Regions from separate parts of the Homo sapiens genome. Here all the other regions are linked to region 2. The links come from fine-mapping of genetic effects on gene expression. A gene starts in region 2. Each other region holds a variant in brackets. All regions are shown on one strand. Distances are between the middles of the regions.

Region 1 (4,246 bases), 23 kb before region 2:
TTCATTTTTGATACCTGTATAAACTGTTTTTTCTTTACCTCAAAAATGCTATTTTTCTTCTCCAATTATGTAGTGACCCTTTTGATTGTCCCATGGCAGGTTTCCTGCATGTTACATTTAAGTGTTAAATTTAGATAAGACAGAATCCTCTGGTATATGAGACATATTTTTTAATGTTAAGTGTGTACTCTAATAGGCACATAATTTTCTTTATAATGTTTCTACTTTTATATAATAAACCCCTGTGTACTATTACCCAGTCTCAACTATTTTCAATACCAGTGCCAATCTTGTTTGAAATGCACCAGTACTCTTTAGCCCCCTGCTTAGCCCCCGGGTTGTGTTATAATATACAGTTTATTTACTTACTGACATATTTGCCTTATATTTGACCTACCATGTGGTGTTCTTTCCCAGAAGTTTGAAGGACTTCCTTTAGGTTTTTTTATAGTGCAGGTCTGGTAGCAGTTTATTCTCTCTTTTTACTTACGTGAAAGTGTATTGATTTTGCCTGAATTTTTTCTTTTGGCATTTTGAATATATCATTTTAATGTCTTTTGACATCCATTGTTTCTGAGTCAGCTCATATATCATTGTCACTCTGTAATGTATTATTTTTCTCTTGTTGCTTTCAAGGTTCTCTTTTTATCTTTGGCTTTCGGAAGTTTGACTGTGATGTACCTAGGTGTGGTTTTCTTTGTGTTTGTCTTTCTTGGTATTTGTTGAGCTGTTGACTCTGTTGGACCTGTAAGTATTTTTGACTGAATGTGTGAAGTTTTCAGTCACAGTTTCACTTCTTGAGATATTTTTTCTTCCCCTCTCTCTTCTTTTCTGGGACCCCACTTACATGTGTGTTACACAGGTTTGCCTGATACTGTCCTAAAAGTAATTTTCTATGGCTTTATTAAGTTTTCTTTAATCTCTTTATTCTTTGTAGTGGATAACTTTTATTCATCTGTCTTTAAATTCATTGCTTTTTTTTTCTTCTGCCATCTCCAATATGCTGTTGAGCCCATCTAGGAAGTCTTTCATTTAAGTTATTGTACTTTTCCCTGGGTGCGGTGGCTCACACCTGTAGTCCCAGCACTTTGAGAGGCTGAGGTGGGAGGATTGCTTGAGGCCAGGAAGTCAAGACCAGCCTGGGTAACATAGTGGGATCACGTCTCTACAAAAAAATAGAAAAATTAAGCCAAATATGGTGGTGCATGCCTGTAGTCCCAGTTACTTGGGAGGCTGAGGCAGGAGGATCACTTGAGCCCAGGAAGTCGAGGCTGCAGTGAGCTGTAATTGTGCCACTGTACTCCAGCCTGGGCAACAGAGTCAGACCCTGTCTCAAAAAAAAAAAAGTTATTGTACTTTTCAGCTGTAGAATTTCCATTTGGTTTTTAAACTTTCTATTTCTCTGTTGAGATTCTTCTGTTCATTATTATCATCATATTTTCCTTTAGTTCTTTGAACATATTTAAAATTGCTGCTTTAAAGTCTGTCTACTGAGTCCAACATCTGGGCCCACTTAAGAGTCATTTTCTGTTGACTGCTTTTTTTTCTATTTCTTTGCATACCTAGCAATTTTTTTTTTGTTGTTGTTGAAAACTGGATATTATAGATTATATTTGTGGAGACTATAATCTGTTCTGCTCTGAGGATTTTTGGTTTTTTGTTCTGATAGGCATTTAACTTGTTTGGACACAGATGAAGAAATTTGTCCCATCACATTGTATTAAGTAGCTCTTGTCTCTGTTTGGTTATTTTCAGCTTTTAGCTGCTGCTTTTTTAGCCAGGTCTCTTGGGGGTCTCCTTTGTGTCTGTGTAGTTTAGTGGTCAGCCAAAGATTTGGGCAAAGTCGATACTGAGATTTTGGCGCTCACCTCTCTATGATTTTTTTGCTTTTGGGGTTTCCCCATCTGAATCTTCGGCTGCTCTTCCAGCAATTGTGTTCTGCCCCCAACCCTCAAGCCAGTAAGGGCTCTGCCTTCTTCAGCCCAGTCTGAGTGTGGGTTGGGAACACACTTAGTAAGAGATACAGCAGACTCACATCTCACCAAGAACACCTCTGTCTTTCAAGCACAGCATCTCCTCTACTTTCTGCCTTCTCTTTCACTATGTTCTGTGGGGTCTCCGATTTGCTTGCTTAGTTTAGCATCCACCCAGGAATCTGGGCAGAGCATATACTCAGATTTAGAATCTCAACCCTTCTGCATCTCTCTCTTCTACAATATCCCCCACCCTGCTTTCTAGTTCCTCTGCTGCTCTGAATCTATTATCTGCTTCCATAAGCTGGTAAGGAAGACTGTGGCTTTCCATCATCTGGTCTGGGACAG[G/A]GGGTAGGCAAGCCACGAACTCAGAGTTGTTCCCCAGTGTTTCAAGTGTAAATGCTTCTCGAATTTCTGTCTGTCCTTCAGTATTTTCTAGTACCTTCAAGTAGTTGTTTTAAATATTTTTGTCTGGTTTTTAATCATCATTTGTGAGAAGAATTGTCCTCCCTTTTTATGCCATCATTAACAGATGCCTTCCTTCCTTTAGATTATTTTAAAGCAAATCCCAGATATCATTTCTTTTCATCCGTAAATATTTCACTGTGTATCTCTAAATGATAAGGTTTTCTGTAAAAGAACCACAATTGATGTATTTCTATAGCTGCCGAGTACCTATACATTGCCTTTGGTTGGTATGCCTTTTAAATTTCTGTTAATCTGGCTGGGTGCTGTGGCTCACACCTATAATACCAGAACTTTAGGAGGCCAAGACAGGCTGATCATCTGAGGGCAGGAGTTTGAGACCAGCCTGGCCAATGTGGTCTCTACTAAAAATACAAAATTAGCCGGGTGTGGTGGCGTATGCCTGTAATCCCAGCTACTCGGGAGGCTGAGGCAGGAGAATCGCTTGAACCTGGGAGGTGGAGGTTGCAGTGAGTCAAGATTGCACCATTGCCAGCCTGGGTGAGAAGAGCGCAACTCTGTCTCTAAAATAAATAACTAATTAAAAAATTTCTTTTAATCTACGTAGCTTTTCCCTATTTTTTCTTTGAAGTTTATGTATTGAAGAAAGTAGGTCATTTGGCCAATAGAATTCTTAGATTCTGCGTTTTCCTGGTTGCGGTCTCATGGCATTAACATGTTCCTCTGCCCCTCACTTTTCCTATAAACAATAGTTAGATCTGTGAGCTTATTTTGATACAGGTTTAATTTTGGGGGTTGGGGGGCATGCTGGGGAACAGTGTTATTAGGTACTGGTCTTCCTATTGCATCACATTAGGAGGCATGTAGCGGGTTCAGGTTTTGTATGTCTGTTCCATCTGCTGCAAGTATATATATATATATATTTTAACCTGCTACCTTAAACTATTAAGGGTTAAACTTCACCTAATAATATTAACAGACATTGATTAACATGGCTTAGGAATTCATTCATTCAGTGGATAGGTAAGGAAATCAAGTTTTTATGATAAAATACTTCATAAATACATACTGATAATTCCAAAGCAAATTTGGTAGTACAGAATTTTTACTTAACCTCATTGATCTTATATTTTTATCTCCTTTAAACTATGACAAAATCCTTGGTTTTAAGTGACACAGAATACTCATTTGCTTTATTCCATGAACTATTCACAACAGTCTCCGAATACAGTACCTAAATCAGCAAACAGAGGAAAACTGAAAATTAAGATTTTGTTTTTTTGCAGTTTTATTCATCCTTACGTCTTATCCCACTAGGTGTGTCCCGTCAGTTTACTGTATTTTAAAGTCACCACTCTGTGGTTATGCCACCAGTTGTGGATTTATACATCTAGGTTTATTTGTTTTACTTTAAGAATTACTTTCTCTTTTAAAATTCATTTTTCCTTTATAATTATGTAAAATATTTGTGATAAAGTCAAATTTACAGAATGAGGTATATTCAAAGAAGTCTAGCTTCTGTTGTTACCCAATCCTTTCTTTCCTCAGAGGTAACCATTCTTAGTTTTTAATTTTATGGCTTATCTTTTCATTGTTTCTTTCTTACTATAAGTAAATATTTGTGTTTCATTTTATCACTCACTTTCATAGATACATGGTAGCATTCCATTCTATATGTACTGTACTATGTACTGTGCCTTTTTTCCTCCCCCCTCTTAATTGTATATCCCAGCGATCACTCCACAGTGGTCTATAAGGAGCCTCCTCAGTCCTCTTACAGCTGCCTGGCACTTCATTGTGTGGATGTACCGTAGTGTGTCCAACCATCCCCCTATCAATAGACATTT
Region 2 (4,246 bases):
TTCAATCCATATAATGTATAGTGATCAGGTCTGGTAATTAGCATGCCTATCAGCTCAAACATTTGTCATTTCTTTGTGTTGGGAATGCTCAATATCCTCGTTGCTATTTGAAACTATGTTATTGACTATAGTCACCCTCCAGTGGTGCAGAACACTAGAACCTGTCATTTTGTATCCTTTAACAAATCTCTCCCTATTCCACCCTTTACCCTAGTATGCCAATTTAAACAGTTAATAGATTTTGGCAAACTGTCCTCCTAGGAGGTCCCTTTCCAGCGGTGAGTGAAAGTGTTTCCCACACCAGTGAAAAAGGTTTATTACATAATTGAGGCTGCCTGTGGGAGCAAAGAGGGCCTCCCAGCTGGTCAGAAAATGGCTAGAGAGAGCCAGGAAAGGAGACAAGCTTGGGGCTTTTATTGTGGTTAAGGGGTGAGGCTGGGAGGAGGGTATCCTGTGCACGCAGATGAAATCTGCCAGCACCAAAAAGAGCACCTAGGCTTTTTTTAACAGCTTGCCCAGATGTGGAGAAGAAAGAGGGAGTGCTGCGTAAAAGCTGCCAGCAGCCAAATGTCAGCAGCAAAAAATGGAGTCAGATTTCTTATATAAAAAGATGTTGGAAGTGGTATCAGAACAGTGCAGGGCCAAGTATCTCACTGGTCACTCTTCATGGGTTTGTATGGTACCTTTGCTCTCACTTACCTCTTGTGCAACAGCTGATTCCCCCTGACTTTCTCATGGTATCCCACTCCCAGGCATAGACATGCGCATGCACACATGCTTGTTTCTGTCCTTACGGATAGTGGAAACATGAACCAGGACCTGGACGAGTTTTTGGTCAGAGCTGTATCATGGCTCCTAGGAGAGTTTAATACTTTAGGTTTCAACCAAAGGAGACAGAGATCTGGCAGAAGGCCCTGAAGCCTAGAAGCAAGTACCCCCGCTCCTACCACCACCACCTAGGCAGGTGTGAGACAAGGATCCAGGCAGCTGCTGTTAGACTCTATAGCTGTTGGATGGTTTTGGCATTCCTAAACCTCTCTACTGCTTGCAAACGTGGAAGAACTGATTTTAAAAACCCACTCCATTTGCCTCTGGGCAGTTCTTACTCACAAAGGACGGGTCGTCTTGGCCGCACAGTTGTCTGTGGGTTGCATCATTTAACAGCTGAGAAAATGCTCCTCAAGAAGTTGTGACTTGCCCAAGGTGGCAGGGCAGGGCTAGGACTAGTACTCACCCTTTCTCACTGCTCATCCAGTGCCCTTAATTCCCCACGGGCTAATGGGACAGAACCCTGTTAAATGGTATCCAGTTTTTGTTTGGTTGGTTGGTTGGGTTTTTTTGAGACAGAGTCTTGCTCTATTGCTCAGGATGGAGTGCAGTGGCTCGATCTCGGCTCACTGCAACATCCACCTCCCAGATTCAAGCGATTCTCCTGCCTCAGCTTCCCGAGTAGCTGGGATTATGGGTGCCCACCACCATACCCAGCTAATTTTTGTATTTTTAGTAGAGACGGGGTTTCATCATGTTCACCAGGCTGGTCTCAAACTCCTGACCTCAAGTGATCTGTCCACCTCGGCCTCCCAAAGTGTTGGGAGGCTGAGGCATGAGCCAGCGCGCCAGGTTTTAATTCTCAATGAGAACACTATTTTTGTTGACAATGAGACGCCCAGAAGATAGCGCCTTTCTGGGGACAGTTGAGAATTTAATAGTGCTTCCGCATTTCTAACTTTTATCCCTCCCCCCTCCCACGGACTGTTTTCCTCTATTCCACTTTTCCTCTTTCATAAGTATTTGATTGCAGGTTGGTATCCTGTATCCAAGCACAGCGCTTGGCATCGAGTAGGCGCTCAATTTTATTTGGTGAATATGAGTTGGAGGAATATTTGATGAATGAATGGAAGATGAATTAATCATCAGGGTCAGCAAGTGATGAACCACAACTTGGTCCAGTTCTTTAGTCCTCTAGTCTCCTGGTGAGACTCCACAGCTCCGCTAACACGACCGGGCCTTCGTGGGCCTGACAACAGACCTGACATCCCACGGGCGGGAGAGGCGTCAGCCCGAGGCTGGGATGCTCGGCCGGAACGGCGGCTGGCGGCAGGCTGGGCCCAGGGAGCTGCGCGCGCAACCACTCGGGCTGTGGCTCCGGTGACCGCTCTCCCTGGCAACGGTTTGTTCCTAGCAACCAGCCTGAGGTCTGGAGGTGGTGCGGAGGGAGCCGCCTAGGGACCAGGGACTCCTGCCATGAATCCGCCGGGGTCCCTAGAGGCCCTGGACCCGAACGTGGACGAGCACTTGTCCACCCAGATTCTCGCGCCCTCGGTCCACTCCGACAACTCTCAGGAGCGCATCCAGGCCCGGCGCCTCCGCATCGCTGCGCGCTTAGAAGCCCGGAGGCGGTGAGCGCGGGGGCGGGCGGGGCGGGATCCGCGCCGCAGGAGCCGGAGAAGGGCTGGTTTCCTGATGAAATAGAAACATTTCTTCGGGAAGGTTCAGGCAGAGTATGGGAAAGTAAAACGCTGGGCCGGTGCCGTGGCGCGCGCCTGTCATCCCAGCACTTAGGGAGGCCGAGGCGGGCCGATCACTGGAGCCCAGGAGTTGGAGATGGTCAACCTGGGCAGCATAGAGAGACCCCATCTCTATAAAACATCAAACAATTAATCGGGCGTGGTGGCGTTCGACTGTGGTCTGCACATGGCATCTTTTCCACTACGGACACCTCCAAACCACAGGGTCTGCTGGATCATGTGGCCCAAGTAGCCTGGCTGCTTACACTGTGGCCTGGGTCCTTTCTTGTTCCAGGCACCACTCAAAGCTGGCAGCTTTTTGTGTCAGCCTGAATAATATTCCTAAGTGCGGGATGTATTGTCTCTAGGACCCAAAGTGGCCTAAGAGGCATTGAGTTTCCTTCTCTGTAGAGGATGCAAAATGCAGTAGATTTGTTTTTTACTTGATAGGCTATCCCAGCATCCCACTGACCACTGGACCCCTACAAACTTGAATGACATGGCAGTCCCTGGGCCTTCATAGGGTTGATTGCCCACCGTCTGGAGCACACATGTCTTACCAAGCCCTGCAGTGTGTTTCCATCACTCGCTCACCCTGGCTGATTGCTGCGGGGCCATCAGTGGAATGCAGGGGCCGGCAAACCCTTTCAGTAAAGGGCCAAATAGTAAATATTTTAGGCTTTTCGGATCATATGGCCTCTTTCCTAGCTGCTCAATTGCCATTGTATTGCAAAAGCAGCCACAGGCAAGACATAAACAAATGGGCATGACTGTGTTCCAATAAAGCTTTATTTATGGACACTGAAATTTGAATTTCATATACTGTTCATGTATCACAAAATAGCCTTCTTTTGATAAAAAATAATAATAAACTTTATTTTTTAGAGCAGTTTTTAGGACCACAGCAAAACTGATCAAAAAGTATAGCATTCGCATATACTCCCTGCCCCCACACATGCACAGCTACTGTCAACATCCTGCACTGGAGGGCACATTTGTAACAATATATGAACCTTGGCGCATCGTTATCACTTGAACTCCATTGTTTACCTTAGGGTTTCTTTTTGGTGTTGTACATCCTATGGGTTTGGATAAATTTATGGTGACACGAGCCCACCAGTATAGTATTATACCAAATATTTTTACTGCCCTAAAAATCCCCTGTGCTCTGCTTATTCATCCTAGTCTTTTTTTAACCATTTATTTATTAACCATTTAGAATTGTAAAAATCATTTAAAATTGTAAAAACCATTTAAAATTGTAAAAAATCGTAGCTCATGCCTGTAATCCCAGCACTTTGGGAGGCCAAGGCAGGAGGATCACCTGAGGTCAGGAGTTCAAGACCAGCCTGGCCAACATGGCGAAACCCTGTCTGTACTAAAAATACAAAAATTAGCCAGGTGTGGTGGCAGGCACCTGTAATCTCAGCTACTTGGGAGGCTGAGGCAGGAGAATTGCTCGAACCTGGGAGGCAGAGGTTGCAGTGAGCTGAGATAGCGCCACTGCACTCCAGCCTGGGTGACAAGCACAAAACTCCATCTCAAAAAAAAAAAAAAAAAAAATTGGGCCGGGCGCAGTGGCTCATGCCTGTAATCCCAAAACTTTGGGAGGCTGAGGCGGGCGGGATCACGAGGTCAGGAGTTTGAGACCAGCCTGACCGACATGGTGAAACCCTGTCTCTATTAAAAATACAAAAATTAGCCAGGCATGGTGGCGCGCGCCTGTAATCCCAGCTACT
Region 3 (4,246 bases), 34 kb after region 2:
TTCCTGTGTCAGATGGAAACCGAGGCTACCTGTACCACTTTCCACACTGTAACAGAGGGAAAAAAAAAATCATCCAATCAGGGACTACCCATGTGGCAACATGTGGAATGTTTTAGTAGGTTAAACTTTATCATAGTGACTCTTAAGTGTATTTTCACTAGACATTCAAGCCAAATGGCACTGATTTTTGTTAAGAAGATATAACATGCAGCTCAACATCAAATTTGCTCTTTGCAACTAATGCATAGCACTCTATCAGTTCTAAAATATGGAACTAAAATTCTTGCAAACCACAAAAATAGGAAGGATACAGTACACATAGATTTGGATGATGGGTAAAGTACAAGAAGTAAAAAAAAATGTCTTACTATTCAAGTGCTTACTGCCAGTAAAGGTCATGTTATGAATAACAGAGCAAAGAGAAGCCTGTAAACATTGTGTACTTAGGGGGAAACTCCCTACCGCTGCCCACCACCCTAAAAGAAAACTGCTAGAAACATTTAATTCTTGATGCAGGAAGCAAATGTTTTTATCTGTAGGCCTTATACAATCATTTAGGATTGTAAGATGTTCAGCTTAAACTTAGGGGCTGTTACCTTTAAAACCAGAATATTAATCCCCCCAAATTAAATATGTTGTTTATTTACACTATATTAATTTACATTGTGCAAAGCACAGAGATAAGCAAAGTACAGCTCCTGCCCTCAAGGAACTTATAATCTATTAAGAAAGCAAGCTACCGCCAGGCACGGTGGCTCATGCCTGTAATCCCAGCACTTTGGGAGGCCGAGGCAGGTGGATCATGAGGTCGGGAGATCGAGATCATCCTGGCTAACATGGTGAAACCACGTCTCTACTAAAAATACAAAAAATTAGCCGGGTGTGGTGGCGGGCGCCTGTAGTCCCAGCTACTCAGTAGGCTGAGGCAGGAGAATGGTGTGAACCAGGGAGGCGGAGCTTGCAGTCAGCCGAGATTTCACCACTGCACTCCAGCCTGGGTGACAGAGCGAGACTCCGTCTCAAAAAAAAAAAAAAAGAAAGAAAGCTACACAAATAGTGTCAAAGAGAAAGAGATGGGGCAGAAAGGGGGAGCAACAGTGTGGCCTGAGATGACATTGCCAGTCTTAGGGTTCCAACATGGAATCCTGCAGGCCCAGTTTAGGGTCGAGATTGTGGTAAATAGGCCCAGTGGGGTCTCTAGAGTCAGCAGAGAAGGCCAGAGGGAAAGACTGTTTTAAATTTCCATCCTGCTGGCACATTGGTGGCAGTCTCTTTCCCTGAGCCCATGGGCAAGAGATGACACCCAAAAGCAGCTGTGGAGAAGCTTGTGCTGCTCCAGGAAAAAGGAGGGAAGGTGTTGTCAACACTTATGCTACCTTTACCGTAGAAGGACTTTTGTGGCAGGTTAGCTTGTAATCTTTATTGATGACTCATAAAACACAAACATCATGTTTTGCCATTAGTCTTGGGAACATGAACTGCAACTTTGCAAAAATATCTTTGGATAATTGAATAATAAGCACAGACATTTAACAAAATCAATTACAGGTATTTTTAACTTTTATTTTAGGTTCAGGGTACATGTGCAGGTTTGTTATATGGGTAAACTGCACGTCATAGGGGTTTGCTGTACAGATTATTTCATTACCCGGGTAATAAGCATAGTACTCGATAGGTAGTTTTTTGATCCTCTCCCTGCTCCCAAACTCCACCCTCAAGTGGGCCCCAGTGTCTACTGTTCCCCTCTTTGTGTCC[A/C]TGTGTTCTCATTGGTCCCACTTATAGTGAGAACATGTGGTATTTGGTTTTCTGTTCCTATGTTAGTTTGCTTAGGATAATAGCCTCCAGCTCCAATTATGTTGCTGCAAAGGACATATTCTCATTCTTTTTTTTTTTTTAAACTTTATGTCAAACCGTATGATGTTGTTCTTTTTATGGCTGCATAATATTCCATGGTGTATACGTACCACATTTTAAAAATCCATTCTACCGTTGATGGGCATCTAGGTTGATTCCATGTCTTTGCTATTGTGAATAGGCTGCAATGAACATATGCATGCATGTGTCTTTGTGGTAGAACCATTTATATTCCTTTGGGTATATATCCAATAATGAGATTGCTGGGTCAAATGGTAGCTCCGTTTTACGTTCTTTGAGGAATTGCCACACTGCTTTCTACAATGCCTGAACTAATTTACCTTCCCTCCAGCAGTGTGTAAGCATTCCTTTTTCTCTGCAACCTCACCAGCATCTCCTGTTTCTTTTTTTTTTTTCACTTTTTAATAATAGCCATTCTGACTGGTGTGAGATGGTATCTCATCGTGGTTTTGATTAGCATTTCTCTAATGATTAGTGATGCTGATCATTTTGTCATATGTTTGTTGGCTGCATGTATGCCTTCTTTTGAAAAGTGTTGTTCATGTTCTTTGCCCACCCACTCCCCCTGCCCTTTATTTTTTGGAGACAGGGTCTTCCTCTGTTGCTCAGACTGTAGTGCAGTGGCATGATCTCGGCTCACTGCAGCCTCGACTTCCCAGCAGGCTCAAGCAAACCTCCCACCTCAGTCTCCCGAATAGCTGGGACTACAGGCACATGCCACCATGCCTGGCTAATTTAAATTTTTTTTTGTAGAGATAGGTTCTCACTTTGTTGCCCAGGGTGGTCTCGAATTCCTGGCCTCAAGCAATCCTCCCTCTTTGGTCTCCCAAAGTGCTGGGATTACAGGCATGAGCCAACATGCCCAGCCATCCATATACATATTATTATGTAATAACCTGCCTTTAAGAATGAAATTCACATGAGCATGCATATGGTAGAGCTTGCATTTATAGTTCACATGCTCTTGTTGTATTGTAAATATAAAAACAATCCTATGGCCAAATAAGTCTGGGAAATGCTGTCTTAGGGATAGGGGATTATTGCAAGGCCAGGAGAAGAAGGAGGGCTTCCTGGAAATCATCGGAGTAGACATTCAGGCACTCTGGGTCTCAGGGCCCCCACATGGGTCAGTTCCCGGGAAGACAGAACAGCCATTCATTGTCATCCCAAATGGAGAGCAGTTCCGAAGACCCTCCTTCTCTGTGAGTGCTCATACGTTCTCAGATGGTTACATCCCATATGGAGCTTTTCTATTGGACTTTTGTGCCGAGCTGCCTTATAGACCAATGGCTTCCCTTATGTTCAGTCCACGTGTATTTGGTTTGTGTTCTGATTCCTGACCCACTCACGATGACCAAGGTTGGTAACATTTGAAGTGGCAGAGCTGGTTTCATTTGAGGAATGGAGGCATAAATCATTGCAACTTTGCAAGAAGAGCTTCTGAGAATCCCTTTCCTGGGAGACACTCAGGGCCATCCCTAGAAGGGGACAGGGCCCAAAGCAACTCAGCCTGGGACCACCCAGATAACTGCCATTGAAATGAGGCTGTGCTGTTGTTGGCATCATCCATAGGTCCTTTGGGATACTGTTCAACTCAGACATTTCAAAATTAAATTTTAAACAGGCTCAGAAAGGGTCCTTTGTAGTTGTAGTTGAAGCTTCTGGCAGCTCCCTGCCCTGCCCCAGGTTCCCTCCGCAAGGGCCAGGCCTGCACTTGGAGCTGCAGGGTCTGCCCGGCACGATGCTCAGTGCTGACAGGATGGGGTGAGGTGGGCACTTGCACCCATGGCCAGTGGGAGCATAAACCATAGGTTGCTCTTTGGAAAGCAATTTATTGAGAACTTTTGACTTAGTCATTTCACTTCTACGAATCTACCATAAGGAAATAAATTTCCCTAAGAGTTGTATATATAATTTGTCCCAGCATTATTTTATAGAAGAGAAAATTATTAAAAGTATATATAACTATATATATATACACACACACACACGACTGTAGGGAAATGGTAAATTATTATGACATGGTAAACATATTAAATATTTCATATATGATGAAGCGGCATAGTATATAAAAGTATTCTAGCCTGTAATCCCAGCACTTTGGGAAGTCAAGGCGGGCAGATCACCTGAGGTCGGGAGTTTGAGACAAGCCTGGCCAACATGGTGAAACCCCATCTCTACTAAAAATACAAAAATTAGCTGGGCGTGGCGGTGGCACACACCTGTAATCCCAGCTATTTGGGAGGCTGAGGCAGGAGAATCATTTGAACCCGGGAAGTGGAGGTTGCAGTGAGCTGAGATCATGCCACTGCACTCCAGCCTGGGCGAGAAAGACTCTATCTCAAAAAAAAAAAAAAAAAAAAAAAAGGAT

Alleles and levels. Alleles are on the strand shown, and positions count from the first base shown. SD is a standard deviation of normalised expression in the study named.
With allele G in place of A in region 1, the expression in cerebral cortex of the gene that starts at base 2,175 in region 2 is higher (small effect, 0.39 SD a copy in GTEx).
For the expression in testis of the gene that starts at base 2,175 in region 2, allele A in region 3 goes with a higher level than allele C (small effect, 0.31 SD a copy in GTEx).

Evidence for each region. PIP is the estimated chance that this variant, and not a neighbour inherited with it, causes the effect. A credible set is the group of variants that fine-mapping cannot tell apart.
Region 1: its variant is the best candidate, but not a certain one, in a credible set for the expression of DRC1 in cerebral cortex (GTEx, PIP 0.69).
Region 3: its variant is the best candidate, but not a certain one, in a credible set for the expression of DRC1 in testis (GTEx, PIP 0.50).

Annotation. Positions count from the first base shown.
Region 1 is chr2:26,376,298-26,380,543 of GRCh38, forward strand. The region is part of intron 6 of SELENOI (selenoprotein I); the gene reads left to right. Among named protein-coding and RNA genes, the nearest start is that of DRC1, 23 kb to the right of the region's middle. The variant G/A (reference allele first, on the strand shown) is at 2,322.
Region 2 is chr2:26,399,746-26,403,991 of GRCh38, forward strand. It overlaps DRC1 (dynein regulatory complex subunit 1), which reads left to right and starts at 2,175. Exons shown (of 17, transcript NM_145038.5): 1 at 2,175-2,399. The coding sequence starts at 2,245.
Region 3 is chr2:26,433,870-26,438,115 of GRCh38, forward strand. All of the region lies in intron 7 of DRC1 (dynein regulatory complex subunit 1), which reads left to right. Among named protein-coding and RNA genes, the nearest start is that of DRC1, 34 kb to the left of the region's middle. The variant A/C (reference allele first, on the strand shown) is at 1,756.